Regions from separate parts of the Homo sapiens genome. Here region 1 is linked to region 2. Evidence: fine-mapped expression QTL. A gene starts in region 2. The other region holds a variant in brackets. All regions are shown on one strand. Distances are between the middles of the regions. Region 1 has its middle 100 kb from the start of MICALL2. Region 2 holds the start of TMEM184A (transmembrane protein 184A).

What was found. PIP is the estimated chance that this variant, and not a neighbour inherited with it, causes the effect.
Region 1: its variant is the best candidate, but not a certain one, in a credible set for the expression of TMEM184A in prostate (GTEx, PIP 0.88).

The regions. Positions count from the first base shown.
Region 1 is chr7:1,347,671-1,362,528 of GRCh38, forward strand. No RefSeq gene overlaps it. Among named protein-coding and RNA genes, the nearest start is that of MICALL2, 100 kb to the right of the region's middle. RefSeq lists silencers at 3,509-3,709, 10,172-10,221. The variant C/G (reference allele first, on the strand shown) is at 7,764.
Region 2 is chr7:1,550,022-1,564,879 of GRCh38, forward strand. It overlaps TMEM184A (transmembrane protein 184A), which reads right to left and starts at 6,184. Exons shown (of 9, transcript NM_001097620.2): 1 at 6,093-6,184; 2 at 5,245-5,463; 3 at 796-961; 4 at 284-374; 5 at 102-177. The coding sequence starts at 5,463. RefSeq lists silencers at 4,710-4,892, 6,260-6,329, 6,370-6,459 and enhancers at 5,002-5,802, 5,372-5,666, 5,803-6,602, 9,827-10,327, 10,328-10,828.

The sequences.
Region 1 (14,858 bases), 200 kb before region 2:
TGTAACCTGGGCACCCATGAAGGCAGCCTCTCCCTAGTTATCCAGGCACTCAGCCCCTGTGTATGACGGGGTCCATGATTCGTGGGCACCAGGCACAGTGAGGACTGGATAATCGGGGCCCACCCTCAGGCCTGGAGGCTGCGAGCCCCTGTGCAGGGTCATCGCCGGCGCGGGAAGAGCCCAAGGGAACAGGTGCAATGGGAACCCAACGGCTGGTATCTCGGGGAAATCTGAAGTGAGCCCAGGAAGGTGGCCGAGGCTCAGAGCCGGGGCAGGAACCCGTGCAGGGGTAGAGAAGGAGGCAGGGACAGCTGGACCAGGACTGGAGGCAGGACAGAAGTCTGTGCATGGGAATTGGGGCGGGGGACACAGGAAGGTGGGGTGGGGGCTTCCAGCAGGGGAGATTTCTCAGCTTCCCCAGGAGGGAAGGAGAAGAGGGAGCCGGGCCTCCCGATTCTTCCCCCAACCTCCTGCCTCCGCGTGCAGGCAGGGCTGCCCCAGCTGGAGTCTCCAGCACAAGGTGAACCTGCTGCTGAGCCCCTGCCCTCCCTGCAGACCTTGCGGGGAGCTGGGCTCCCGGCTGGCTGTGCCCTTGCTGTGTGACGGTGGGCAAGGGCCTGCCCTCTCTGTGCTCCTGCCCCGTCTGGTTCTGTGAGCTCCATGGGAACAGGGCTACCACCCACCAACCCACTGCAATGCAGATAGAGGCTGGGACTCGGGGAGGCTCCGCCATGGCCCTAAGCGGGGGTCCTGCTGGCCTGCAGACTCTGCCTCCCAGAGCCCCTCACCCCGCCCCCACCCACCATCAGCTCCGTCTGGAATCGACACACTTCCTTCTGAGAAGTGATGCATGGCTTCCCCGTCAGATTTACAAATAACTTCAAATTTTACCGTTTTCTTTCCCTAATGAATTCTCTGAAGCGTGTTCCAGGCTCCCCGGTAATGAGCAGGATGCAGAGGCCTCCGTGCAGCTCTGTCTCCCGGCCTGCCTCGGCGAGGCCCTGCTGAATTAGCCCAGCCCCTCCCGGCGCGCAGCCCGGGTGCACCCTCGTTTAGTGCCCTTGGTGGGAATCCATTGTATTGACAATCTCCACTGGTGTAATTCCTGCATTAGGATTTTGTGCTAAACTGTGTTTTAAAAGCGCTCTGACCCCGATTACCTCTTTAATTGCACTTAAAAATCCAGATTAATTCAGAGGCGAAGTCAGCCACGCTGGGAAGGGGGCCTTGCTGGGCCCACACCACGGATGGTTCCCCGGTTTCTGGAGATGGCCGGTTCCCCAGGGTGGTCTCTCTGCACCGCCTCGAACTCTCAGGAAGCCTCGCTTGGAGCTGCCGGGAAAACCTCTAGCTCTGGGAGACCTGGAAGAGAATAAGAGCGTCTCAGGAGCGCTGAGCTGGTGCTGGCTTCGCGAGCCACGCCACGAAGCCAGGTAAACACAATTGCTGCTGTTCTCATTTTATAGGTGGGAAAGTTGAGGCCCAAGACTATCTCCAGCCCCGAGATCAGCAAGTGGGTGGGTGGAGCTGGGGCAGCTGTGGCTGAGCCTGCTGGGCCCCCAGAAGAGGCTGGGTAGGGCTTTCCGTGGCCTCTGGTCCTTCCTGCCATTCTTGGACCCCAAAGGGGCTCCAGGGTCCTCCAGTCCCACTCTCCCATGTTACAGGTGGGGAGACTGAGACCCACCAGCCACGGCTGTCACTGGGCCCATGGAGAGGTGGTACGCCGGCCGAGGCCAGCTGGGGAGGCCTGTCTCCGTGATAAACACCTGCCCCTCATCCTGCATGCTGGCTGTCCACGGAATGAGTGGGGACCTGGGGGCCGACCAGGCTGGTCCCAGCCCTGGCTCCTCTCCTGACTGCCTTGGACGAGCCCCCTCCCCTCTTTGAGCCTCAGTTTCTCCATCTGAACAATGGAATCCTGATCCTGAGCTTGCAGGTCTGTTGGGAGACGCGGATACAGCACCTGGTGGTCTGTGCGTGGCATCAGGGGACTCGGGGGCCACTGCCCTGGCTGTGATTCCTGCCCCATTCTGCCCAGCCCCGGGCGGGGGTCAGTGAGGTGCTCCAAGCCCTTGGGGTTATCACGAGGCATCCGGCCCTACAGCACAACAGATGTTTTTTTTCCTTTCACCTTCACCTCGTTTGGAGACAATAATACTTCTACGAACATGTGTGCACAGGCTTTTATGTGGATGTGTGTCTTTATTTTTTTCTTTTTATAATAAGAAGTATTATTTTTAATCAAAACAGAGCTGGAGTAATGTCTTCGTTTTTCCTGGGTAGATACGTGGGAGTGAGATCGTTGGGTCTTATGGTAATTCCACATTGAACATTTTTAAAATCTCCCAAACCAGCTGGGGGTGGTGGCTCACGACTGTCATCCCAGTACTTTGGGAGGCTGAGGTGGGAAGATCGCTTGAGCCCAGGAGTTCAAGACCAGCCTGGGCAACATAGCAAGACTGTGTCTCTACTGAAAATTTAAAAAATCATCCCAGCACTTTGGGAGGCTGAGGCAGTTGGATCACCTAAGGTCAGGAGTTCGAGACCAGCCTGGCCAACATGGTAAAACCCTGTCTCTACTAAAAACACAAAAATTAGCTGGGCATGGTGGTGCACACCTGTAATCCCAGCTACTCGGGAGGCTGAGACAGGAGAATTGCTTGAACCTGGGAGGCAGAGGTTGCAGTGAGCCGAGATCGTGCTACTGCACTCCAGCCTGGGTGACAGACTGAGACTCTGTCTCAAAAAAATAAAAGAATAAAAAAATAAAATTAGCCGGGCATGGTGGTGCACATCTGTGGTCTCAGGTCCTCAAGAGGCTAACATGGGAGGATCGCTTGAGTCCAGGAGTTCAAGGCTGCAGTGATCTGTGATTGTACCACTGCATTCCAGCCTGGGCAACAGCAAGACCCAATCTCAAAATAAACAAAAAGAAAGAAGAAAAGAAAAAGAAAAAACTCCCAAACTGTTTGTCAAAGTGGATGCAACCTTTTTCCCTGCCTACCAGCAGTGTGCTGGAGTTCTGACTTTCCAATTTCTCCTCCTCACCAATACTTGTCAATATCTGTCTGCTTTATTTTAACCGTCCTAGTGGGTATGAGGGGCCATCTCATTTTAATTTGTGTTTTCGTGATGGCTGATGGTGAGTATCTTCCTGTGCTTATTGGCCATTTTTATATCATCTTTGGAGAAGTGTCTCCTCAAATCCTTTGCTTATTTCAAAAATCGGGCTATGTGTTTCTTTGTTATTGAGTTACAATAGTTCTTTATATATTTTAGACATAAGTGTCTTATCAGAAATACGTTTTGCAAAAATGTTCTCCCGTTTTGCAGGTGGTTTTTTTCACTTTCTTGACGATGTCCTTTGAAGCACAAAGCCTTCTAATTTTGATGAAGTCCAGTGTATCTCTGTTTTTCTTTTTTCTCTCGTGACTTTCATATCATATCTAGGAAGGCTTGGTCTAACCCAAGATCACAAAGATTTACTCCTGTGTTTTGTTTTCAGAGCTTTATAGCTTCAGCTCTTACGTTTAGGTCTGTGATCTTTTTCTTTTCTTTTTTTTTTTTTTTTTACACAGGGTCTCACTGTATCACCCAGGCTGGAGTGCAGTGGCGTGATAATAGCTCATCCATACCCGCCCACTTGCTGACCTCAGGGCTGGGGATACTCAGTCTCTGGGCCTCAAGTCAAGCCCATGAAGTCAAGGCTTCCCGGGCGCAGGTGATCCTCCCACTTCAGCTTCCTGAGTGGCTGGAACTACAGGCGTGTGCCACCACGTTCAGCTAATTTTTAAGTTTTTTATAAAGATAGAGTCTTGCCATATCATGCAGACTGGAGTGCAGTGGCATGATCATAGCTCACTGCAGCCTCAAACTCCTGGGCTCCAGCGATCCTCCCACCTCAGCCTCCCAAAGTGCTGGGATTACAGGTGTGAGCCTCTGCGTCTGGCCCCTGTGACCTATTTTGAGTTAATTTTTGCATGTGGTGTGAGGCCGAGTCCACCTTCACACTCTTGCCTGTGGACGTCCAGTTGTCCCAGCACCGTCTGTGGAAAACGCCCATTGAATGCCCTTGTTGGAAAAAATCAGTGAACGAGTGTGTTTATTTCTGGTCTCTGAATTTTCTTTTATTCCCTTAATCTGCATGCGTGTCTTTACCCCAGGACCACACTGTGTTCATTACTGCAGCTTTGTAGTAAGTTTTGAAATCTTAGTAGGGGGTGGGGGCGAGGGGCAGCTGAGGGAAAGGCCACAGCCGCTGGAGTCCCCTGGCCCTCAGTTGGGGCCACCCAAGCTGCCCGGCCACTGGAGGCTGGGAGGGGCCCATTCCTGGTGGTCTCGGGACAGGCCTGGAGGCCCTCGGCTGTGGTGAGCCAAGATCTGCAGGGGGACTCGGGGCTGACCGAGCTGGCCCAGAGCAGATGGCGGCTCAGCGCCCAGGCTCAGGGCGTCCATCCTGCGTCCCATGAGCTATGGCTGCCGACCCCGATGGGTGCCGCGCTTTCCAGTTTGCTCCCTCCCGCGTCTCTGCTGACCATCCCCACCTGTAGGTGAGCACACAGAGGCTTGGAAGGTACTGAGGGTTTGTCTCTGCCCTGCAAGTCACACAGGGGAGTCCCCAGTCCCCTGGGCAGCATACGGGCCTCCCACGGGATCCCAACCCACAGCTCCTGGAGAGTCCTTTAGGACAAGACCCTAATGCTGCCCCTGAGGCCTTTGGGGCCTCAAACTCCAAAGAGAGAAGAGGCCATTCCCTGAGCAGGGGAGCCGCTGCGGCCGGGCCTCCTGCCCTAACACGCACGCCCGACGTGCTGAGCCAGTGCAGCGGCCCCACAGGTGCAGGCCCCCGCCCCCAGCTCCACACCATGCCCCCAGTACAGGGCCAGGACCTCCCCAGGCTAAGCTCCCGCTGCGTCCCAGAGGGATGTAAACCCCAGAGGGCCCCAAAGGAGCCCACGTTTGCCCCAACCTGTACATTCTATGCTCAGGTTTATAACCAGAGCTTCCAAGAGGAATCTGGGCAGCCACCGCCCACCCTACCCCACCCCTCCCTACATGGATAGCTACAGGCAGGGCCCAGGCCCCCATCACTCTCGGCCACCGGCACACAGGTCCAGGCCCTCGCCTTCTCCCAGGGCCCCCAATGCCTCTGCCAGGAAGCCTCCCCCACAGGCTGAGTTATTTACTTTCCTTAATAACCTTTTATGAGGGGCCTTGCCGCGGCCTTCAGGAGGACAGGGAACCGGCTTCGAGGTCATCCTTTGGCCGGGATTTTATTAACTTCAAGTCAGGCTCGAGGCAGGTGAAGGAGCCTCTCCTCCACCCCAAAGGGTTGTGAGGCGCTCCAGGTGAGGTGTGACTGCCCTGTTCAATTAAATCCTCCGTCTGCACCTCGGCCTGGGTGGCGGCGGCGGGCAGGAGACCCCGCAGCAGCTTCCGCGCGGCATGTCCCCTGCCCACCGCCTTCCCCACCCACTGGGCTCTGAACAGCAGACCTGGGGTTTCCAAAAAAATCAACTGTCAGCCGCGCGCGGTGGCTCACGCCTGTCATCCCAGCACTTTGGGAGGCCGAGGTGGACAGATCACCTGAGGTCAGGAGTTCAAGACCAGCCTGGCCAACATGGTGAAATCCCGTCTCTACAAAAAAAAAAAGAAAAAAAAAAAGTAGAAAAATAAGCCGGGCATGGTAGTGTGCGCCTGTAATCCCAGCTACTCGGGAAGCTGAGGCAGAAGACGCGCTTGAATCCAGGAGGTGGAGGTGGCAGTGAGCTGAGATTGTGCCACTGCACTCCAGCCTGGGCAACAGAGCAAGACCCCGTCTCAAAACAAAATAATAATAAAAATAAATTGAAATCGAGAGGAACGTTAGACAAACCCGAATTGATGGACATTCTACAAATATCCTGCCTGGACTTTTTGAAAATGTTAATTGCAGAAAAGATGAAGAAAGGCTGAGGGTCCCAGGCTGAAGGAGATGGGAGTGGTGTGCAGAGACAGCACCCTGTGGCCGTGGGCTGGATTCGGGACTCGGGATATGGTGGGATAAAGGGCATGATTTAAATGTGGGCCATGGAGCGGCCACCATCAACAAGACCTTGTCTTATTCTGCTCTAGTTGGTCACAAATGCAGAACCTCGGGCCCTGTCCCTGGCCAACTACACATTTTTAATTTTGCTTTTTTTTTTTTTTTTTTTTTTGAGACAGAGTCTCACTCTGTCACCCAAGCTGGAGTGCAGTGGTGTAATCTCACCTCATTGCAACCCCTGCCTCCTGGGTTCAAGCGATTCACCTGCCTCAGCCTCCTGAGTAGCTGAGATTACAGGTGCCCGCCACCACACCCAGTTAATTTTTGTATTTTTAGTAAAGACGGGGTTTCACCATGTTGGCCAGGCCGGTTTTGAACTTCTCACTCACCTCCAATGATCTGCCCGCCTCAGCCTCCCAAAGTGCTGGGATTACAGGCGTGAGCCACCTGTGTCCAAACCCTGGCTCGTTTCCTTGCAGGGCAATCTGTTTCCTCCTGTGTCTAAGCTTTGTCACCTGCGACATGGAGGTGCCTGAGGCACAGGCCTGTCGGGGATCCTGTATGGCCATGGTGTTGGTGACAGTGCAGGCAGGGGCAGGTTCCCGGCGAGGCTCTCTGAGCCCAGGCCTCTGCAGCTCACCGGGCAAGTACGGTTTCTCCGCTGCCCTGTCCATAGGCGCCACGCCGACCCCAAATCATTTGCACCCAGCACCTCTGTTTGGTGAAGACGATTTTGCAAACAGCAACTAGTTTAGATATCTAGAATGTTTCCCCAAAGCCTAGCACCCTTCAATTCCACCCTTTAATCACAATGAATAAAGCTGCACAGGACGTTGACTTCAGTGACGCAGGCGCTGGGGTGCCATTCTGTGCAGAGATGTTAAGGAAAATGCTTGGGAAACGGTTATAGCAAAGCATCAGCTCCCTCACCCCTTGCTCAGCACTCTGTGTCCAGGCCTTGCAGGTGCTGAGGACGCCCCATACCCAGGACGGCCCACCATGCCCAGGGAGCTCCTCTGCTGATGCCCACTGAGCCGGGAAGCACTTCCGTGCATGGCCCAGCCAGGCGGGAGAGTGCATTTGCTTTCTAGACGGAAGCAGGCTCCTTGCTCACCATCCCACGTTGCCCCTGGTTACCCTCCTCGCCCGGCCCTCTCCACAGTCCTCTGAGCAAGTGGGGGCCATCCCATTGCACGAATGGCCCAGAGCGGTGCATACTTTCCTGAGGCTGCCCAGACTGTGAGGGGTCAGGGGCACAGGGCTTCTGTCTCCAAGCTGCCTTGGGGCTGCTCCCAAGGGTGGGTCTGGCCCTGTCGGCCCCGCAGGCCCGCCTATCCCCACCCCCTGCTCACCTGCCCTGCACCTGCCGCCCCTCCCCTCGGGGCTGCCCCCGTCCCGGTCTTCGGCATCCAGCCTGGGAAGAGCCACCCAGCTATTTACCATGGACTCATTTAAGTTGGTTAATTTTTAATAATGTTGAAATTTCCATGTGAATAATTCAGGTAAATTATTTATTAAAGCGCAGGATAAAGGGACCAGGACAATTACCAGCTGACAGTGTTAGCTGCGGCATGGTGAGGTGGGTGAGGTGGGCGCGGTGCAGGCGGGAGGGAAGGCCTGCGGATGGGCGGTGTCACACTGACCCTCACCCTGGACACCAGGCCTAGGAGGGCTTGGCAGGGATGCCCTCCAAACCCTCTTCTCCCTCCACGGCCCCACTAACAGCCTGGCCACCTGA[C/G]CCTGCAGCCAGATGGCCCCTGGCTCCCTCCTGAGCTCCATGCACCCACCTCCAGCCGCTTCCCTTACACCCCTGCGGCCCCTCTGGCATGAGGGAAGCCTGGAATCCGTCTGCCGAGGCCGGAGGGAAGTTTTCTATGCACCAATCTCATTCCGTCAGCCCGAGTCAGCCCCATGGCAGTGACTGACCATTGCACTTAGATAGGACACCCTGGACCCTGCGAGGCTCCTGGGGCCTGGCCAGCCTCGCTCCCCACTGCAGCCCGTGGCAGCCACTGGCTCCTCTGTGACCCTGCATGGCTGTTCCTCCTGCTGGCACAACGCTCCCTGAAGCCTCGCCCGCCCCGCCCACCATTCCAGCAGGAAGGGGCGGCAGCCACACCAGTCTGGGCGGTGTCCTCTGCATGTCAGCCAGCCCCTATGGGGTTCTGTGAGTTTGGCCCGACAGGCAGGGCAGGGGCTGCCCCAGAAGGGCCCCTCGACATCGGGAGCTGCCCCTCTGCTGCCCCCTGCCCAGCTGGACAGTCACCTCCACCCTCCCAGGGACTCCTGGCCAGCGCCCAAGAGCCCCCAACTCTGCTCTTTCCACACCCCTTACCCCACCAAGGCACCCAGGCCTGACGCCTCCTCTCTGTGGTCACCTGGGTCACCGTTCACGCCATCTCCTTGCTGCCTCCCGCCTTGTCCTCAACAGCCCTGAAGTCCGTCCTCCACTCAGCTTCTCAGGTGGTTCTCAAAGGTTAACACAACCATGTCCCTCCTGCTCCAAACCCTCCATGGCTCCTGAGTGCCCCTGGAATAGAGCCCAGGCTCCTCCGGGATCTGCAGGTGCCGCCTGCCTCTGCCATTCTCCGTCAGCCCACGTCAAGATGCCCCAAAAACATGAAACCCATCCAGATCCCAAAGTCCCAAAGACACAGTGCCAAAGAAAGTGTAAAACTTCTCAACATTGTGATTCCACGGCAAATGATAGTATTTGGGATAGGTTGAATTACATAAAACACATTATTAAAATTAATTTTACCTGCTTCTTTTGTTTTCTTCCTTCCTTCCTTCCTTCTTCCTTCCTTCCTTCCTTTTTTTTTTTTTTTTTTTGACAGGGTCTTACTGTGTCATCCACGCTGGAGTGCAGTGGTGTGGCCTCGGCTCACTGCAACCTCGACCTCCTGGGCTCAATGGTTTCTCCCATCTCAGCCTCCCAAGTAGCTGGGATTACAGGCACATGCCACCGTGCCGAGCTAACTTTTTTTAGTCTCACTATGTTGCCCAGGCTGGTCTCAAACTCCTGACCTCAAGTGATCCGCCTGCCTCAGCCTCCCCAAGTGCTGGGATGACAGGCGTGAGCCACCGCACCTGGCCTTCATTTTCCTTTGCGGTGCCTGTCACCTGCGTTATTATCATGGACATGTGTGTATCTGGTCACTGCCTGTCCGTGAGCAATGTGAGGACAGGAATGTGTCTGTCGTGGTCCCTGCAGTGTCCTCAGCACACAGTAGGTAAATCTTCAGCGCACAGTAAGCATAGCTTCAGCTTCAGTTCAGGACAATCGTGTCAGCAACACATAGTAGGTGTGCAGCACACAGTAGGTAAATCCTCAGCACACACTAGATAAATCTTTAGCACACAGTAGGTCAATCCTCAGCACATAGTAGGTAAATCCTCAGCACACAGTAGGTAAATCCTCAGCACACAGTAGATAAATCTTCAGCGCACAGTAGGTGAATCCTCAGCACATAGTAGGTAAATCCTCAGCACACAGTAGGTAAATCCTCAGCACACACTAGATAAATCTTTAGCGCACAGTAGGTAAATCCTCAGCACATAGTAGGTAAATCCTCAGCACACAGTAGGTAAATCCTCAGCACACACTAGATAAATCTTTAGCGCACAGTAGGTAAATCCTCAGCACATAGTGGGTAAATCCTCAGCACACAGTAGGTAAATCCTCAGCACATAATAGGTAAATCCTCAGCACACAGTAGGTAAATCCTCAGCACACAGTAGACAAATCTTTAGCGCACAGTAGGCATTTCCTCAGCACACAGTAGATAAATCTTTAGTGCACAGTAGGTAAATCCTCAGCACACAGTAGGTAAATCCTCAGCACACACTAGATAAATCTTTAGCGCACAGTAGGTAAATCCTCAGCACACAGTAGATAAATCTTTAGCGCACAGTAGGTAAATCCTCAGCACACGACAATTGTGTCATCAACACATAACAGGCGTGCAGCACACAGTAGGCATTTCCTCAGCACACAGTAGGTATGCAGTGCCTGCAGGAATGGAGCCCTGGAGGTCTACTGGACGGGGCAGCACTGCAGCTGGGAGTGGAGGAACCTGAAGGAGCAGACTGGGGGGCCCCACGAGGGGCCACGGGACACCCAGGGAGGGTGGGGAGCTGCTTAGAAGAGGTTGGAGCCCAGGGAGGGCCTGGGTGGGACTGTCACGGGGCGAGTGGAGAGATGGGCTGTGGGCCGAGACCCAAGGCTATAAACTGGGAGGGGCCGTGAGCCCGCCCACGGGGAGCAGCGATCCACAGCCGCCTCTGTGGAGCCCGATGTGTCTCAGCCCTTCCTCCCCTACGGGCCTCTCCATTTGCCGCCTCACACGTCTGCAACACCTTCTCTCGGAGGCCTCATAGGAACCCGGGTGGGAGACTGGGTTCTCCCCATTTTCCAGATGAGGACGCTGAGGCCCCAGGCGGCACATGGAGCCAGGGCTCATGCCCAGGTGTGTGCAACCCCAAAGTCCTTACAACCCGGCCCCACACTCCCTCACAGGCAGAGGCAGAAGTACCCCAGAGCCTCCTGCAGCCTCTTCCTGAGCCTGGGAGGAAACTGAGGCAGAGCCGGGCAGTCCCTGCTGTGACCCCATACGGAGCATCTCCCCAGAGGCTGGTTTTGCCCGAGGCCAGGAATCCCAGACACAGACCCCCAACCCACGACTTGGGCGCTGACCTTCCCAGGTGGTCACATGAACAGGTGCTCTCTTTTATGAAAACTCAATGCGTGTGGCCCCAGCCCCTCCCACCCACCCCAAAGCCGTCGGCCTCCTGCGACAGCGGCGCCCTGACTGCCTCCTCCGGCCACGGCCCCTCCTGCTTTAATTACCAGCATCTAGGGCAGCCGGCACGCCAGGCGGCTTCGCACTAATTAAAGTGGGGGCTTTACAGGATGGCGCCGTCCCCCCAGGCCCGGGAGACCTCACAGCGCCAGTGACCCACAGGCCAGATCATTCCCGAGTTAAACAGGCAGAGACCAGGCCTGGAGCCTGCAGCCAGGTAGGTGATGGGTGGAGGGGGGGTGCTGGGAGCCGAGGCTCAACCCCACCCTCTGCTTCTCTGCCCTGCAGCCTTGAGACAGTGACTCCACCCCCCTGTGCCTCAGTTTCCTCCCCCGTCCTGTGGAGAACACCTGGGCACTCTCAGGATTCATCCATTGCTTAGACAAACACCACAGTAGCGAACATTGCTGAGCCCTCTGACCACTCTGTGTCCCCACCTTGCAGGAAAATGGTGGATTCCTGGGGCAGGAGGAGGCAGTAGGGGTTCCCAGAGGGGCAGGAGGGGTTCCCAGAGGGGTGGGGGTCCCTGGCTGCAGTGCCTGGGTGGGCAGCCCTCTTGGGCCCCCTTTATGTGGTTCTGACCTCACTGATCAAACCCTGAGCCCAGGCCGACGACACGGACCCTGAAGGTCCCCAGGGCCCCTCCCTGAGCCTGCAGGCACATCCCTGCCCCACCAAAGCTCAAACCCACCTCTCCTGGAAATCCCCACCGCATGTGCTCTCCCGGGAGCTGCAGAGCTGAGGGGAGAAGTCCGCTGTGACATCCACTGTGAAGTCCGCCGTGAGCCCCTCGGGCAGGCCTGGGTCACACCCCACCTTGTCTCTGGCTCCTAGGGCGCAGTCCAAGGCATGGTTCGGGGCAGGTGACGGGAAGTTTTTTTTTGTTTGTTTTTTGTTTTTGCTTTTATTTGGGAGAGACAAAGTCTCACTCTGTCACCCTGGCTGGGATGCAGTGGTGCAATCTCAGCTCTCTGCAACCTCTACCTCCAGGGTTCAAGCGATGCTCCCATCTCAGCCTCCCAAGTAGCTCAGACTACAAACGTGTGTCACCATACCCGGGTAATTTTTTTGTATTTTTAGTAGAGATGGGGTTTCACCATGTTGGCCAGGCTGGTCTCAAACTCCTGACCTCAGGTGATCCGTCTGCCCTGGCCTCCCAAAGTGCTGGGATTACAGGCGTGAGCTACCATGCCTGGCCAGGTGTCAGGAAGTTTTTGCTGAATGGAATGAGTGAGGGGCCACCCCCAGGGATCCTGGACTGTGCCCACATTAGAGGCACCATTTCGATTTCATGGTGTGGCCCGGGGTGGGGCTGGGCAGCTGAGACAACGCCCATGACGCCAGGGCAGGGCTGGGGTACAGGTCTCCTCAGATCCTGTCTCCCACCCTGCTAGAAAAACACCCCGAGAAGAGCTGATCTGTGGGTGTGGGGCCCACCAGGAGGGAGGTGGGGAGACTGAGGCAGCACAGGGTGGGTGAGGACCAGCCCCTTGGGGGCCTCCTCTCCTAGGGATTGTAGCCTCCCCACCTGGCCCCAGGACATGACTGGCTACTTCTGAGAAGACCCTCAGCCCATTCCAAGCCTCTCTGCCTCTGCTGAGCCCCAGGGGCTCCCCACGAACCCCCTCTCCTCTGCTGGTCCATCAGATGGCTACGGAGCACTGTTTAAGGATGTACAGACGCCCCACACCCCAGGTCCAGATGCCCCATGTCCCGGGTACAGACACCTCACGCCCGGGGTCCAGATGCCCCATGTCCCAGGTACAGATGCCCCACATCCTAGGTACAGATGCCCCACGCCCCGGGTCCAGACGCCCCACGTCATAGGTCCAGACGCCCCACACCCTGGGTCCAGACGCCCCACATCCCGGGTCCAGACACTCTAATGGCCTGTTGCTCACTCCCAAAGGTGTGCATGAAGGGTCTGCATCTGTGTTGGAGGCTGGGGTCAGTGCTGGGGGCGGTGGGCACTCAGTGCAGCCCAGCCAACCTGACTCTGCTCCACGAAGTCATCCAGGACCCAGGATCCTCCCCACCATCGCTCTGAATCGTCTACAGCCTCAGTCCAGCTGAGGGGAGAGGACGGAGACCTCCCGGAAGGTGGCACAGGACACCACGGTGAACATGGCCTCAGCCCTGCACCTGCTGGGTGAGTGGGGAGGCTGCAGCAGGAAGGCCCTGAACCAGGAAGTTGGGGAGAATGCAGGTTCCCCTGGGGCACCCCCCATCAAAGGGCAGAGAGCTGGGGCCAGGCCAGAGCCACCCTCACCGGGCCGCCCAAGGGCTCAGCGGCACCGCTGTGAAGTGGGCATGGGCCCAACCCCTCTGGGAGCAGCGGGGATTCTGGGGCCCTGCCTCTGAGGGTTGCACTGGGGCCCCACGAGAGAAGGCTCGCAGGGAACCTGGGCAGGCCACCTGGGAGGCTGGGGCCAGGCTTCCTGGACCCCACCCCAGCTTCACCACTTACTGGCCTTGGGCAGCTGCCTGGCCCCTCTGAGCCTATCACTGTCCCCATCTGTCAAATGGGATAATAATGATTGCAAAGTGCTGGAAATCGGAATTATTGATACAACAGGGCCACAGTCTCACCCTGGCACTGGTTCATGTTGATTTCTGGCTACGGGAAGGCCTGCACAGGTGCCCTGGAAGTGCTGGGTGCCTGCAGAGGGCCCCGGCCCCCTGGGACAGAGCTGGACTGCAGGTCCCCATGAGGCCATTTCCAGGGAGAGGGGCCCAGCTTGTCCCTAGGTGTAGTGTCCATGGAGACAAAGAGGATCCACTGCCCCCAGTCTGGGGGTCACGGTGACCTGGGGCCCCAGGAGGGAGCCTGAGGGGGGCAGGAGCTTCCCAAGATCCAGCCTCAAAGGCTGAGTCCCTCAGATAATAATAATAAGATTATTAAAAATAATCATCAGGCTGGGTATGGCAGCTCACGCCTGTAGTCCCAGCACTTTGGGAGGCTGAGGAGAGAGCACCATTCGAGCCCCAGAGTTCAAGACCAGGCTGGACAACACAGCAAGATCCCATTTCTATATAATAAAATAAAATTTGCCAGGCGTGGTGGCGCCTGCCTGTCGTCCCAGCGGCTCGGGAGGCTGAGGCGGCAGGATCGGCAGAATTGCTTGAGCCCAGGAATTGGAGGCTGCAGAGGACCATGATCACGTCATTGCATTGCAGCCTGGGTGACAGAGCAAGACCCCAACTCTGAAACACAAATAAACACTTCTAAAAAGAATAACCAGTGGAACAATCAACATGGAGGGAGGCCTTGGTGCCGTGTCTCATTCGATTCTCACCCCCTCCCCAGGAGGGAGGGACTAGAGTATCCTGGTTTCAGAGATGAGGAGGCTGAGGCCAGAGAAGCTAGGTCGCTTGGCTGGTGCTGAGACCTGCCCGGGTTTTGGGAGAGCAGCCTGCAGCCCCCAGGGCCCCTGGCTGACGTCTAACAGCCGGAGCCGGCCACCGGGCCCCACGCCGGGAAGCATCTCTGGGAAAACTCGTCTTACAGATTTGATTTAATCACGGAGTGCTGATTTTTGCAGAGCAGGTCGTGACCCTGGTCATTTTGTGAAAATGAATTGCCTGGGAAAATGGAAATTGTCACTTTATTATAGGATTAAAAAAATTCAATCCCATTTGAATCAAATGGGAAATAGGGCAGGCCCGTGTCCTTCCATCCCCCATTATTAGTGAATTGGGGTCCGTGGGAGAGCTGGGTGGGATTTCATGAACAGGATTTAATTCGATCCTCTACCCTCCAAGCTGGGGTTGCCCTGAGTGGGGGTTTCCAGCAAAAAAACCCACCTCCCCCTTCCCCCACTTTCCTTCCTCAGCCCCGTCTCCCCTCCAAGGGACTTCACAGACTTTCTAGCCAGGGACCCCTCTGCCAGTGCCCCAGGCACAGCGACTCCAGCCCCCACACTGGGCCCAGGCTGGTCCTGCCCCAGGGTGCCAGTCCCCTCTCAGGCCTCACATCCCTCCAACCGGGGCTGCTTCTGCGTGAAGACCCGCCCAAGGGACGCTGAGGGGTG
Region 2 (14,858 bases):
ATGAGCAGCCCCCTGACACTGGGTGGGGTGGCGCTGGGCCGGCTAGGGCCCCTGACGGGCTTGGGTGGGAGGAGGGCGGGCAGGGCTGGGTGGCCCCTCACCTGCTTACAGAAGCGCAGGAACCCGATGGAGTAGGTCATGCCCCGGAGGCAGCAGGTGCCGTACAAGCAGCTGGACCTGCGGGGGACGTCCCTGAGCCGGTGCGGGAGAATGCAGCCCCGGCGCCGCCGGGCTCCCTGTCCCAGGTGTGTGGGGTGTGGGGGCTCTGGGGTGACGGGCTTACTTGATGGGCTTTCCACGAATCTCAGCCATGATGGCGCCCTCGCCTCCCAGGTACTGGAAACACAGGCTCAGGAAGCTGTAAATGACAAAGGCTGCAGGGAGCACAGAGGGGGACCGGCTGTGAGCCCTGAGCTGCACCGGGACCCCATGGCGCCCATCTCACCAGGGCAGGAGGAGGCTCGGGAGGGGCTGAGCCCAGCAGGCCACACAGCAAGAGGCTCCTGATGGACCCCATCCCCAGCGGGGCAGCCTGAGAGGGTCAGGGTGCTCCATCAGGGCCCTGCTTTCACCCCAGGCCAGGGCAGGTCCACCGAGCCCCTCTCACGGAGGCTGTGGGGTCAGTCGTGTGTTCCAGGCCTGCCAGCGCCGCTAACCCTGACTATCCTGGCAGCCCCTCTGACGGGCCGGGAGAGTGGGGTGCCCTGGGGACTGGCCATGGAAGAGTGTGCGTGCACGCAGGCCCCGGGGAGTCTCTCCCTCCGCTCCCCCGACCTGACGCAGCCTGGCGCCCACCTTCGTAGCAGTCCCGCACAGAGTCGAAGTAGACGTAGTACTGGTGGTCTCCGAGGAGGAGGAGGCTGAGCCAGGAGTCGAAGGCGTAGATGGGCACGATGAGGAGCAGGCGGATGATGTAACGTTGCTCCTGTGGCACGGTGTAGGAGCGCAGGTGCAGATAGATCTGGGCGCAGGAGGGGTCGCATGAGAGCCGGGCCCGCCTGGTACCCCTGGACCAGCCCAGGTGAGCCGGGAAGGAGGTGGGGGTGGGTGCAGGAGGGTTTGGGTGAGAGCCAGGTCCACCCGGTACCCCTGCACAAGCCCAGGTGAGCCGGGAAGGAGGTGGGGGTGGGCGCAGGAGGGTTCGCGTGAGAGCCGGGCCCGCCCTGGGCGCAGGAGGGTTCGCGTGAGAGCCGGGTCCACCCGGTACCCCTGCACCAGCCCAGGTGAGCCGGGAAGGAGGTGGGGGTGGGCGCAGGAGGGTTCGGGTGAGAGCCAGGTCCGCCTGGTACCCCTGCACAAGCCCAGGTGAGCCGGGAAGGAGGTGGGGGTGGGCGCAGGAGGGTTCGGGTGAGAGCCGGGTCCGCCTGGTACCCCTGCACAAGCCCAGGTGAGCCGGGAAGGAGGTGGGGGTGGGTGCAGGCCACCAGGCACCTTCTATGTTTGCATTTTCTAGTTTTCTACAATGGGCATCCTTATTACAATTAGAGAAAATAAATTGTTTGCCTATTGTAATTAGATACATACTTTTATACGTATTTACTATAGAAGTACATATAAGTATGAATGTATATGTTAAATACATATTTCTGGTTACAACTAAAAATAATACACATTTGAATAATTGACTTTTTATGGCCGGGTGCAGTGGCTCACACCTATAATCCCAGCACTTTGGGAGGCCGAGGTGGGTGGATCATTTGAGGTCAGGAGTTCAAGACCAGCCTGGCCAACATGGTGAAACACAGTCTCTACTAAATACACAAAAATTAGCCAGGCATGGTGGCGCGCGCCTGTAATCCCAGCTACTAGAGAGGCTGAGGCAGGAGAATCGCTTGAGCCTGGGAGGTGGAGGTTGCGGTGAACCAAGATTGCGCCACTGCACTCCAGCCTGGGCGACAGAGCGAGACCCTTTCTCAAAAAAAAAAAAATATTTTTTTGAGAAACATGGTCTCGCTCTCTTGCCCAGGTTTTTTTTGAGACAGGGTCTCGCTCTGTCGCCCAGACTGGAGTGCAGTGGTACAATCATGGCTCACTGCAGCCTTGAACTCCCGGGCTCGAGTGATCTGCCTACCTCAGCCTGCTGAGTATTGGGACTACAGGTGTGCACCACCTTGCCTGGCTAATTTTTGTATTTTTTGTACAGACAGGGTCTCACTGTGTTGCCCAGGCTGGTCTCAAAGTCCTAGGCTCAAGGGATCCTCCTGCCTCCGTCTCCCAAAGTGCTGGGACTATAGTCATGAGCCACTGCACCTGGCCTAAAATTTATTTTTTAAATTGGCAAATCAAAATTGTATGCATTTACAGTGTGCAGCGCGATGTCTGATATGTGTGTTCGTGGGGAATGGCTGAGTCAAACCCATTAACGTCTCCATTATCTCCCATACTTAGCATTTCTTTGCGGGGAGGACATGTAAAATGTACTCTCTTGGCAATTTTCAAGCATAGAATACATTGTTATTTATAACAGTCACCATGTTGTACAATAGGTTTTTTTTTTTTTTTTTTCTGAATAAGTTCCTTGGGCATGAGTGAGGGTCCTGTTTGTTCTTAGCCTGGGAATGGGAACGCTCACTCATTCCTTCATTCAGCAGGCGTTTCTAGAGCCCAGCTAAGTGTCCAACCCGGGGGACGGAGAGGGGACACGTCCCGGTCCTGGGCTGGGCAGACTCTCAGAAGGCACATTGGCTTTTGCTGTGGGGGCATCCAAAGGATGTGCACCCTTTGATTCCTAAGAATTTGTCCCTCCCTAGGGGCCAGGCACGGTGGCCCACGCCTGTAATCTTAGCACTTTGGGAGGCCAAGGTGGGCGGATTACCTGAGCTCAGGAGTTCGAGACCGGCCTGGTCAACAGGGCGAACTCCATCTCTACTAAAAAATACAAAAATTAGCCAGGCGTGGTGGCGGGCGCCTGCAGTCCCAGCTACTCGGGAGGCTGAGGTGGGAGGATGGCTTAAATCCGGGAAGCGGAGGCTGCAGTGAGCACTGATTGTGCCACCGGACTGCAGCCTGGGTCACAGAGTGAGATCCTGCCTAAAAAAAAAGAAAGCCTGGGAAAAAGTATGGGTGATTATAGTAGTGTTTGCCTTTAAACCTTTCTAGATTTTCCACGTTTTTATTTTTTTTAATTTTTAATTATTATTTTTTTTATTGAGACGGAGTCTTGCTCTGTTGCCCAGGCTGGGGTGCAGTGGCGCAATCTCAACTCACTGCAACCTCCGCCTCCCGGGTTCAAGTGATTCTCCTGCCTCAGCCTCCTGAGTAGCTGGGATTATAGGCGCGCACCACCATGCCCGGCTAATTTTTGTATTTTTAGTAGAGACAGAGTTTCCCCATGTTGGCCAGGCTGGTCTCAAACTCTTGACCTCGGGTGATCCACCCGCCTTGGCCTCCCACAATGCTGGGATTACAGGTGTGAGACACCACGCCTGACCGATTTTCCATGTTTTCTGTGAGGATACAACTCAACTACAGGGTCTTTGAGACAGGGTCAGCCGAGCCTGGGAGCTGGGCGCACAGGGGCTCCTGGGGAAGGCCTTCTGGAGGAGGTGCATGCGTGGCGGTGGGCGAGCAGAGGCTACGTGCACCTGGCCGCTTGGGGTGCAGCTCAGGGAGTTGGGGGAGGTTGGAGGCAGGAACAGACTCTTATCAGTCACACGCTCCCCGATGGTCCCTGGGAGGGACGGCATGACCAGCCATCAGGAGACCTCTCCCGGGGCTGGCGCTGCCTGGCTGGGTGACCTTGACAAGCCACTGTCCTCTCCGGCCTCGGTCCTCCCATGTATAAAGTGAGGGGGATCCAGCCACTCTGTGTCCTGCCTGGGACTCCTCACTCAAGGGTGACTCTGGCGGTGGGCTCAGGGGTGGGACAGGGCCTGAACTCCAGCCCAAGGGGTCTCCATGAGCCCTGTCTTGACTGCGAGGCCCCATGAAGCTAAAGCCACACTACAGCCGCGCACACACAGCCGGTTCCCAGGATTACAGCGGAAAGACGGCCTCCTCCGGGAAGCCCTCTCTGATGGCCTTACAGGAAGGGCCTGCCTCGGCACTGCCTCCGCGGCTCTGCACACTCCAGGCCACACTCATACACGTCTACCGTGGGTTCTGGTTATCTGTTCACAGCTCACTGCAACCTTGAACTGGGCTCAAGCGATCCTCCCATCTCAGCCTCCCAAGTAGCTGGGACTAACAGTGCAGGCCCCCATGCCCGGCTAATAAGCAGTTAATAAACTGTCACTGAGATGCTCCCTCGGAGACTTGTGGCCACCGGTGTCCCTGCCTGCCAGTCTCCTGATGGCCCCCTGCCCCAGCTCACCTACAGATCCATTCCCTACACCAGTGCCCCGTGCACCCGGGAAGCAGCTCTGCCCTCAGCCCAGCCCTCCACAGCCTTCCTGGGCTCCCAGCACCCCCTGAAAGCCACCTCACCGCACTGGGGTCAAGGGCTCTGGACAAATCCCTGCAGCCGTGTGGCCCTCGCGGGCCTACACACGCACTCCCACCCCACCCCTGCGCACACCGCCCTGGCCTCTCTGTGTATCTGAGTCTCTCAGGAGGGTCCTGTCCCTGACTCCCTGCCCTCTCTGCCCAGCCCCTGCCCTCGGGCACCACTTCCTCCTTGCCCCTGCCTGGCCCTTCCTTGCCACAGCGCCTGGCCGCTTCTCTACCTGGGGGCTGTTCTGTTCCCACCTGGGGACTGCTCCGGGTCGGGGGCTGTGTGTGGCTTCGGGCTTGGGGAAGTTGCTTCTCGCCCATCTCCTGCACAGGAGTCCCGGTCCCTCTAACAAGCTGTGACCTTTGCTCCCCAGCTCCCTACAGAGCAAAGTCCAACCCCCTGCCAACCTCCCACCAGCCTTCTCCAGGGTGTCACGCCTCTGGAAGGAGAAGGCCCCTTCCCCTTTCCAGCTATGTGAGCCTGGGAAAGACCTCTGGTCTCTCTGAGACTCAGTCTTCTTGTCTGTGAAATGGGACCACACTGCAGACCTCAGTGAGCCGAGTGACGAGCCTGTGAAATAGCCAGGGGTGCCCGGTGGGCGCTCTGCCCTCAGCCTGGCAGAGATCTCCCCATTTTCAGGCCCAGCTCCCACATGCCACATCCTGGGGAAGCTCATCCCCTCCCCCGTGCCCTGGCCGATCCCACTTCTGACAGCGTCTATAGCAGCGGCACCCAGGGGGACCGGGCTGAGCCACGGCCACGTCCTGTGGAGACCAAGGTCCTGAAGGAGGCTCGGGGGCGGAAGGGCTTACCTGGTGGCAGGTGAGCACCAGGGCAGTCCACACGAAGATCCCCGAGACGCCTCGGGCCAGTGCGGAGGTGAGGAAGAGCCAGGGGGCCCCCTGGGAGCTGTTCCCCATGTGGTCCATCTGCGGCCCAGCTGGCACAGCCGGTGGGGGGCTGGGCTGCGGCCAGTTCGCTGACACCAGGGGGACGCCGGCTGTCTCCAGGATCCCTGAGACATTACTCATCTGCAGAGGGAGGGAGGACACACACCGGGAGGAGTGAGGGCAAAGGTACTGGCTCCCGGCAGCAGGAAGCAGCGGGGGAGGGAGGAGACAGTGAGACGGGAGCTGAGGCTGAGCCACCCACCAGGCCGCACCCCCCACACGGACACCAGCGCCAGGCCCGGCTCCCTCCCTGCTCCGAGCTCAGCCATCGAAGCTCACCCATCAACCACCTGCGACCTGAGGGTCCCACCTCAATTCCCCCTTGTAAAACCAGCTTCCAACTCCGAGTCTCAGGCTTGCAGGGAGCCTGCTTCTTAGGGGACAAAGACCGTCTTCCAGTGGGGCAGAAGAGGGGGAACCCCTGCCGCCCTGCCTGCCCGGGAGGGCTGGGGAGCGGGCGCAGACCAGCACTGCCTGCCCCGGCAGGAGGGGGTGTGCAGCCACCCTCATGGGAGGAGCCGGCCCTCACTGGCTCTGGGACCTGTCCACCCACCTGGGAGCCCGGCTTTGCTGGGGTTCTTGGCAGCCCTGGGTGCCTGTTCCATCTCCCACTAACCTGCTGGGGCCCTGAGTCCACCCTCTCCCACACTCGCAGCCCAGTCCAGCCTCCTCCTCTCCCTCTGGTCTGCGGTCACAGGGCCCAGCTCTACCTTTGCTGGCAGGAAGCACCTGGCCCAGTCCAGGGAGGCCTGGCCTCCAGGGAAGCCTAGCTGGTCATTCTCATGGCCACGTGGCCCCAACTGGAGGCCCCACTGTGGGTGCGGCAAGGCCAGGATCTGAAGGGCTGTGCCAGGCTGGGGCGGGGCGGCCAGTGCCTCACGTCCCCAGTGGCCCACCTGGGCCCCAGGCTGCAGGCCCGTCCCCTCCTGTCCCCTCCCACGGCTGACACCCTATCCTCCCGGTTGTTTGCTGGGTGGCAGCTGGCTCCCAGGAACCTGCTGGCCGCCTGGCGCCCTCACCTGCCTATGCCAGACGGCCAGGCAGCTGCCACCTGGTGGGGACACGTGGGAGAGGTCTGCGGCAGGCCAAGGAGGGCCGGGCTGCAGGAGGAGGGGTGGAGAGCTAATGGTACAGGGTTTCTCTGGGGGGTGACAGGAGTCCTGAAATGAGGTAGAGGCGGCAGGCACACAGCACTGTGGATATACTTACCGCCACCGAATCGTTCACTTAAACCTGGGTAAATTGATGTTATGTGAATTTCATCTGAATTAAAAAAAAAATCCACGCCCCAAGAGATGAGTTGAAAACATTTGTTTTCTGGGCCGGGCGTGGTGGCTCACGCCTGTCATCCCCACACTTTGGGAGGCCAAGGTGGGTGGATCACTTGAGGTCAGGAGTTCGAGACCAGCCTGGCCAACATGGTGAAACGCCGTCTCTACGAAATACGCAAAAATTAGCTAGGTGTGGCAGCGTGCACCTGTAATTCCAGATACTCAAGAGGCTGAGACAGGAGAATCGCTTGAACTCAGAAGGCGGAGGTTGCAGTAAGCTGAGATCACACCACTGCACTCCAGCCTGGGGACAGAGGGAGACTCTGTGTCCAAAAAAAAAAAAAAAAAAAAAAGGAAATATTTCTGGTTTTTGTGGATCAAGGCAGGAGAGGGGGAGTGACAGCCCAGTCCCTGGACCCTTTGGGGTCTGGCAAGGGGTTGCGGGGCCCTGAGGGTCCCTGTCACCCCCATGCAGAGGCCCCTGTGGAGAAAAAACTCACTCACCCCGGCTCCTGGGAGAGGGATGTGGGCCCTCAGCCCACCTCTTGTCCTGTTCTGGTTACGCTTGGGCTCATGCCGCTGGGGCCACCATTACCAAGTCCCGCTCCATGCCCGCAACGGATCCACACACTCCTTGTCCTTCATATCTCCTACCCTCCCACAGCCCTGAGCAACAGGGCTCAAGGGGTTGAGGCTGGAATGACTGGAGCCACTGTTCCCCTTTTATTTTTAATTAATTTATTTTTTGAGACGGAGCCTCGCTCTGTCGCCAGGCTGGAGTACAATGGCGCGATCTCGGCTCACTGCAACCTCCGCCTCCTGGGTTCAAGTGATTCTCCTGCCTCAGCCTCCCGAGTAGCTGGGATTACAGGCGCCCACCACCACACCTAGCTAATTTTTGTATTTTTAGTAAAGACGGGGTTTCACCACGTTGGCCAGGCTGGGCTTGAACTCCTGACCTCAGGTGATCTGCCCGCCTCAGCCTCCCAAAGTGCTGGGATTACAGGTTTGAGCCACCACGTCCGGCCTGTTCCCCTTTTAGAGATGGGAACGAGAGGCGCATCAACGCGTCCAGCATCCTTGAGGGGTCCGTGAGGGGCCCGGGCTGAGGCCCATCCTTCCCTGGGACACCCTGCCTGCTTTTCCCAACTCCTCCACTGACACTGTCCCTCCAGGGAGGCTCCCAGGTGGGGAACAAGCTCAGGAAGTCGTGCCCAGCTCTCAGGCCCGCCTTGCCTAACCTCCCCATCAGCGCCCACCCGGGCCCGGGCCCAGAGCCACAGCATGCACACCCTGGCTGGGCCCTCCTGGAGCCTGCCTGCTCCCCAGGCAGGGACCTTCTGGACCAACCGACCCTGCTCCCGGGTGACTCTGTCCTGCAGCCTCAGGCGTCACCTCTGGAGAGACCATCCCCGCTGTCCCATCACCCTCCTCACTGTGTGTGTGACTCCCTGTCCACCTGTCTGTGTTTGCTGCTGGTCCTCCCTCTGCAGGAGCTGCCAGAGCCTAGAGCTGTGCCCTGTCCATGCTCGGGGCACAGGGCTTGCGGGGTGGGGGCTGTCCTGCTGAGGCGGTGACCCTGTGGGCTAAGGTCTCCCTTTGGCCAGGCAGGGGTGCTGGAAGGCGGTCCCCAACTTCCATCCAGCTGCATTCCCACTGCAGCCACAGGTACTCCTGCCGGCCTCCCACCCGGCCTGCAGAGCCCCAGGCAGTCGGCTCAGCGCGTGTGGATGTCGCCCTCTGGCTGTGTCGGGATCACCGTCACGGACAACTATGAAGTGACGATGGCTGGGGGCCCGTTTGAAGGGTGAAGACTTTGGTGCCTGGGCATGCGCAGAGCTGGAAGGGACCGGGAATCCCCTCATCCAACTCGCTCATGCTACAGGCAGGGAAACTGAGGCCCCAGCCCCTGCTTGATTTGCGTCCAGCCCCCAGCACAGGATGAAGCCTCGGGCCCCTCCCTGGGCTGACGGTGGGAATGGCTGTGCAGACAGCAGGAGGCACTGTGGCTAGATGTCAGCAGGACCGTTTTGGCTGGAGCCAGCAGAGCCAGGCTTCTGGGAGGGCTCTGGCTTCGGGCAGGCTCAGGGCTTGGGCCCCGGACACAGACTGAGGGACCTCCAAAGCTCTGTCTTCCGCCAGAGGCAGATCCTCTGTGGAAAAAGGTGGGGTTTTCTCACAGGGCCAGCTGGGCACTGGACAGGGAGGCCTGCTGATCTCCTCAGCCCACAGCTGTCCCGGCTGAGCCAGATGCGCCAGCTCGGGAACCGTGGACCAAGTGTACTGGTCTGGGGATGTCAGGAGCAGGGCCTGGTCCCCAGGGAGGGGCAGTCGGGAGGTTGACCGCTCTGCCACCTGCTCACAGGGCTCGCCGGCTGATCGAGGCCTCACCCGGTGCTGGTGTCACAGCCTCTGCGCCCGGTCACAGGAGGCGGCAGGGCCGGCTGGGCCTGATTTTTCTGGCGGGGGCGGGACACTGACCAAGCCCATTGCAGGACAGACCTGTCTGCCCAGATCCAGGCGACGGGGCCCTCTGACCATTGTTCACTGCGTCCAGGTGCCCAGAGCTGTGGGGAGGCTGAGAAGCCGCCCAGCCAGTCCCACACCCTGGCCCTGGCACAGCCACCTCCTCCTGCTCTCATGAGAAACCCGGCTGAGGGCCCATGAGCTGTTGCCTGGTTCCAGGCCGGCTGCCCTGCTAGTGCCCACCCCGACCCCCTGCCTGCCCGTCTCTCTGCAGATGCGGACAGGCATGGTGTACCCCCCTGCCTGCCTCCTTCACTGCTGGGTGGAACTCGGGGCGCCCAGGAGCCGCCTCCTCAGGGCTGGCTCATTTGATGTCCCAGGCTGAGCTGCACACTAGGGGGATGAGGTGACCGGTGGGCACCCATCTCAGACACCCGGCTTCCCAGGTCCCGCGGCCCTCCCCTGGGGGCCCTGGCCAGCAGTTCACCAAGGCAGCAGCCCCGGGTGTGAGCAGGGGGTGACAGGGATGGGGCTCCACATCCTCCCGGCTCTGCTTCTGGGATTCCCCCGGCTCCTGTCCACGGGCACGGCCTCCTGAGAGCCGCGTGGGGCGGGCAGGCAGCATGGCCTCCTGGTGACCCACATGCCCCCTCCTCACTGGGGCCGGGGAGCAGCCCCCACAGCCAGGAGGAGCAGGCCCTGGACCACATGCCACAAGCTGGGGCCTGGCTCTGGCTGTGTGAGGTGTCTGTGACCTCAGGCAGAGCCTATGCCAGCCTGGGCCTGTCTCCACCGGCAAGAGCTATGCGGCAGGTCAGGGAGGCCGGGCCAGGGCCTCAGGTTGGCCTCCCTGTCATCTGCCCTTCTAGGGACGTAGGCTGCTGCATGGGAGAGCCAGCCTGGCCAGGCCCTGGGACTCAGCTCCACTGTCTCAGCTGACCTGGCGACCTGGCAGGTCATAGGGGGGCGCTTGCCTCAGCTTCTGACTCTCGAGCAATTCTGTTCTGCCTGAGCCCATCAGCCCCAGATCCCAGGGTGGGGCCGTCCCAAGGATCTGCTCTCTTCCTCCCATAGGTCTCCCGTCCTGTCCTCCGGGGCCAAGCCCCCACCTCCCTGCTCCTGTCCCTGGTCCCTCTGTTGCCCCCATCCCCAGAAAGTCACCCAGGGCCTGCCTATACTTGCCTTCACCTGAGGGAGCTGCCAGCCCTGGGCGTGTACGGGTCGGGGGCACCCTTTCATCTGGAGCCAGGATGGGGGGTGCTCGTCTGGCCTGGACTTGCCAGGCTGGCTGGAGACCCTGTTTGGTGTCCAGGTGCCGTCCTGGGGCCCAGCCTCTGAGGTGGCGGTGAGGCTTAGGGGTTGGCGGACTGTGATTCTCCGAATTTCAAGGTATGTTTTTTTTTTCGAGGAGCCCCCCACCCCATTGAAGTGCAGGGGCTCAGCCTGGACACCATACCCCTCTGGTATGCACCCCCTTCCCCCACACACACACTCTCGCACTCCCACACCCACGCAGCTCACCTCCCTGGTGGCGCTCAGCCTGTCAGGCAGGTTGGCTGCAGGTCTCTGGGCCTGAGGGGGGGGCCAAGGCGGGGTGGGCCTGAAGCTCGGCCCCCGGCCTCCTGGCCTCTGCTGCCGCCTCCTCACAGCGGCGGGCAGCCTGGGTCCCTGAGAGATGATTGCTCCTGAGCAGTGGCCTCTCCCCAGACCCAGGAACTCCTCCCAGCCCCACCCCCTCCCCACCCAGCCAGCCCTACCTGCCTGGGTACAGCTGGCACGGACCACACCCTCCACCTTCCCCCCTGCCCGGATTTTGGGACCCACATCTGTCCACGTGCCACCCCTGCCTCCTGCCATCCCAGCGGGTGTGAGCCTGGACCAATCTCCCTGTCCGGTGGATTTCAGACGTGGGACCACAAGTGGGCTGGGGTCCCGATGCCCCTTCACGAGTGACGCAGCCCCTGCCTCCCCTTCTTTGGCCCCCTCACCCCTGAAAAGTCCCATTCGGGAGCCTGAGGGTGTCGGGACACGGATCGCCACCAAGCTCTGCCCCTGCCCACGCACGCCTGCTACCCGGGTGACTGGAACGTGAGACGCACGCACGAGCTCCTGTGGGCCTGGAAGGTTGGGTCTCCCACCCGGGTGGGGCAGGACGAGCCCCTGTTTGATGGGGGAAGCTGAGTCAGGAGCTGCAGGCCCCTGGCTAATGGGTGGGGGGCAGGGTTGGAGCTGCGGTTTGTTCCCCCTTCCTGGGCTAAACCTTGGGTGGGGGGCGTCAAGCATGGCCCTGGACCCTGATCTTCCCTCCTGTGAAGTGGCCTCCACGGCGCTTCCCCTCCTGGGTGGGCGGGGTGAGGTCAGACGGGCAGGGCAGGTGCGTGTCCCAAGTCCTGTCTGCGAGTTCCATGGAATCCTGCTTAGGAACAGCACTGCTGGCTTCCCTTTCCTTGGAGACCCCTCCCTCCCTCCCCTGCCTTTCCTTCCAGACCCAGTGCCCCCTCCCGTCCTGTGTCCTAAATCATGCCCAGCTAGGGGCAGCTGACCTCTGCCCTCCTCAGGCTGACACCCACCTTGCCAGTGAGCAACTCCCAGCCCAGCTTCGCGCCTTCAGGTGCCGGGGCTCACGGCTTCGTGCAGCCTATTTCGGGGTGTTCTGGGGCCCACGAGAGCAGAGTCTTCATCAAAACATCCCCAGATGTGTGCTTCTTTCTTGCTTCTTCTTTTTTTTTTTTTTTTTGGAGACAGGGTCTCGCTGTGTCACCCAGCCTGGAGTACAGTGGCATGATCTGGGTTCACTGCAACCTCTGCCTCCCTGGCTCAGACCATCCTCCCGCCTCGGCCTCCCAAAGCGTTGGGATTACAGGCGTGAGCCTCGCACCCGGCATTATTTCTGAAAGCGAATCTGAATCCCCAGAGCTCTGGCGCCTTTGGTCTTCTCACAGTTGTTTTGGAATTCACGCATCCTCACTCTCTGCCGGAGCCACCCCTCACCACACACAAGACGGGGTTTGTTGTTTTTCTCGCTGCGATGCCAAACTATAAAACCAGCGTGGCAGGGTGCCTCCCTCAGTCATCTGCACATCATTCCGCTGTCTCTGGTTCATTCCCATCGGTCAGGCCCTCATTCCAGTCTTCCAGTCACTTACCGGGCCTCCTGTTCCAATTCCATTCCCAGGCACTCAACAAGATAGCCGAGGCCAGCTCACTCCGCTGGTCCCCACGTGCCACCGTCTCCCTCCGCAGGTCATTTGTCATCATCCGTCCACGTGGGCCCAGGGCTCTGTCAACCCCCTGGAGAAGCCGCTTGAAATGACAGCCAAGAACAGGGCCCCCACTGGCTCTTCTTGACCTCCAAGGCCCCCAGGTCCACTTAGGAAAAGGGGGTGGTGGGGAGGCTTGGGGAGATTCCCTCGCAGCTGAGCAGAAAACAGTGCTGGACGTCGCACTGTGTGGGCGCAAGGGCATCGCCTTAAAGAGTGAACACTGTCCACTGTCTCGGCCGCAGCGGCTGCCATGGGCCCCGTGTTCATCACTCACAGTGAGCCGTGAGTGTCTGGGAGCTGCGATTCCAGCTGGATCTCTGGGTAAAAACCACAGGCAGCTCATCCTCCTAAAGGAGCAGCAATCCCCAAAGCAGATGGCCCTGCCTGCAACCACAGCTGGCTCCACAGAGCTCCTCGCTGGAGCAGGGGCTGCTCAGGAGTGATGAGGCTGGGAGCGGGCCCAGAAAGCAGAGGGCCGGGGCCCTTCCACAGCTGCCGCCATCTGATTTACAGCACAGGAGCTAGCTGGATGGCGGAGGTGCTTAGCCTTGGTCTGTGTTGTTACCGGCTGCCAGGCGGCTGTGAAGGAGGACCTCGGGAGGGCACTGGGGGGCCAGTCTCAATTATATGCCCGTTTCGGCATCGCCTTCAAGGCGGGTGGCCGTGGGACCCTGCACATGACATGTGGCAGAGCTGTGTGGACATCCCAGGAGCCTCCAGGCAACCTGCCCGCCCCTCCTGAGCCTTAGCTTCTCCACAACCTACCTTTATTTTTTTTACGAAATTAATTTTTTTCTTTATACGCTTTTTTAGATATAGAGATGGGGTTTCCCCATGTTGCCGAGGCTGGTCTCGAACTCCTGGGCTCAAGCAATCTGCTTGCCGCAGACTTCCAAAGTGCTGAGATTACAGGCACATGCCTCCAAGCCTGGCTTTTTGTACTTTTAGTAGAGACGGGGTTTCGCCATGTTGGCCAGGCTGGTCTCGAACTCCTGGCCTCAGGTGATCTGCCTGCCTCAGCCTCCCAAAGTGCTGGGATTACAGGTGTGAGCCACTGTGTCCGGCCTTCATGACTTACCTTTGAAGGGCAGTCATGAGGGCCCAATTAGACAGGACAGGCCTCCCAGGCCTGGCTCTCAGGAGCCAATGCTCTCCTGAAAACAGTCCCGCACCAAAACAGTGCCGCACCAGACCAGCAGGCGTGGAGGCAAAGCCAACCTTGGCCTTGGCAAGAACCATTGCCCTGGTGCAGTTGCGGCGTGAAAGAAAAGGAAGCCGTGGCCGGGCACAGTGGCTCAAGTATGTAATCTCAGCACTTTGGGGGGCTGAGACAGGCGGATCACCTGAGGTCAGGAGTTCGAGACCAACCTGAACAACATGGTGAAACCGCATCTCTACTAAAAATAGGAAAATTAGCCAGGCATGGTGGTGTGCGCCTGTAATCCCAGCTACTCAGGAGGCTGAGGCAGAAGAATCACTTGAACCCAGGAGGCAGAGGTTGTAGTGAGCTGAGATCCCGTCACGGCACTCCAGCCTGGGCGACAGAGTGAGACTCCGTCTCAAAAAAAAGGAAGCCATGAAGGAGAACCACGGGGGCCCCTGACTGGGGGATGGGGGCTCCAGGGCACCCTGCATGGTGATTCCAGCTTCCCCACTCTCTGGGGTGCGGCCTGCTTCCGTGTAAGGAAAATGCGGGGAGCCACTCACGGGGTGAGGATTGAATGGGCAGCCCTGGTGGGAAGGGTGATCCCACGGCCAGTGAGCAGGTCTACTGTTATCGCTAAGGGACAGGTCAGGAAGCACAAGCCGCAGACCCGCATCCGGACTCACACTGGAGCCCCGTCCACGCCGTGTCCCCGCTGGTTACATGAGAGAAGCTGTGGCTCTTCCACAAAACTGTCCGGTTTTTATAGGTGGAGACAGGCATGTATTTAGACAGGCATGTATGTATTTAGACAGGCATGTATGTATGTAGACAGGCATGTATGTATGTAGACAGTCATGTATGTATGTAGACAGGCATGTATGTGTGTAGACAGGCATGTATGTGTTTAGACAGGCATGTATTTAGACAGGCATGTATGTATTTAGACAGGCATGTATTTAGACAGGCATGTATTTACACAGGCATGTATTTACACAGGCATGCATGTATTTAGACAGGCATGTATGTATTTAGATGGGGTCTTGCTCTGTTGCCCAAGCTGGGCTCAAACTCCCAGGCTCAGGCCATCCTCCCCGTCTCAGGCTCCCGAGTAGATGGGATTCCCAGCATGAGCCGCCACACCCAGCGAAAACATCTGACTTTTAGACAAGTGTGAGTAATTATGGGCTAATACCGAATGGCGAGGCTTCTGCCCGGGCACCCGCTCTAAGATATTAACCTGTTGATGTCACACCCTGGCCCCCGGTTCAAGGCTGAGCCCTCGGCAAGCTGCCCCCCGACAGGTCCCCTTCCTCTGGCGGTGATCCTGAG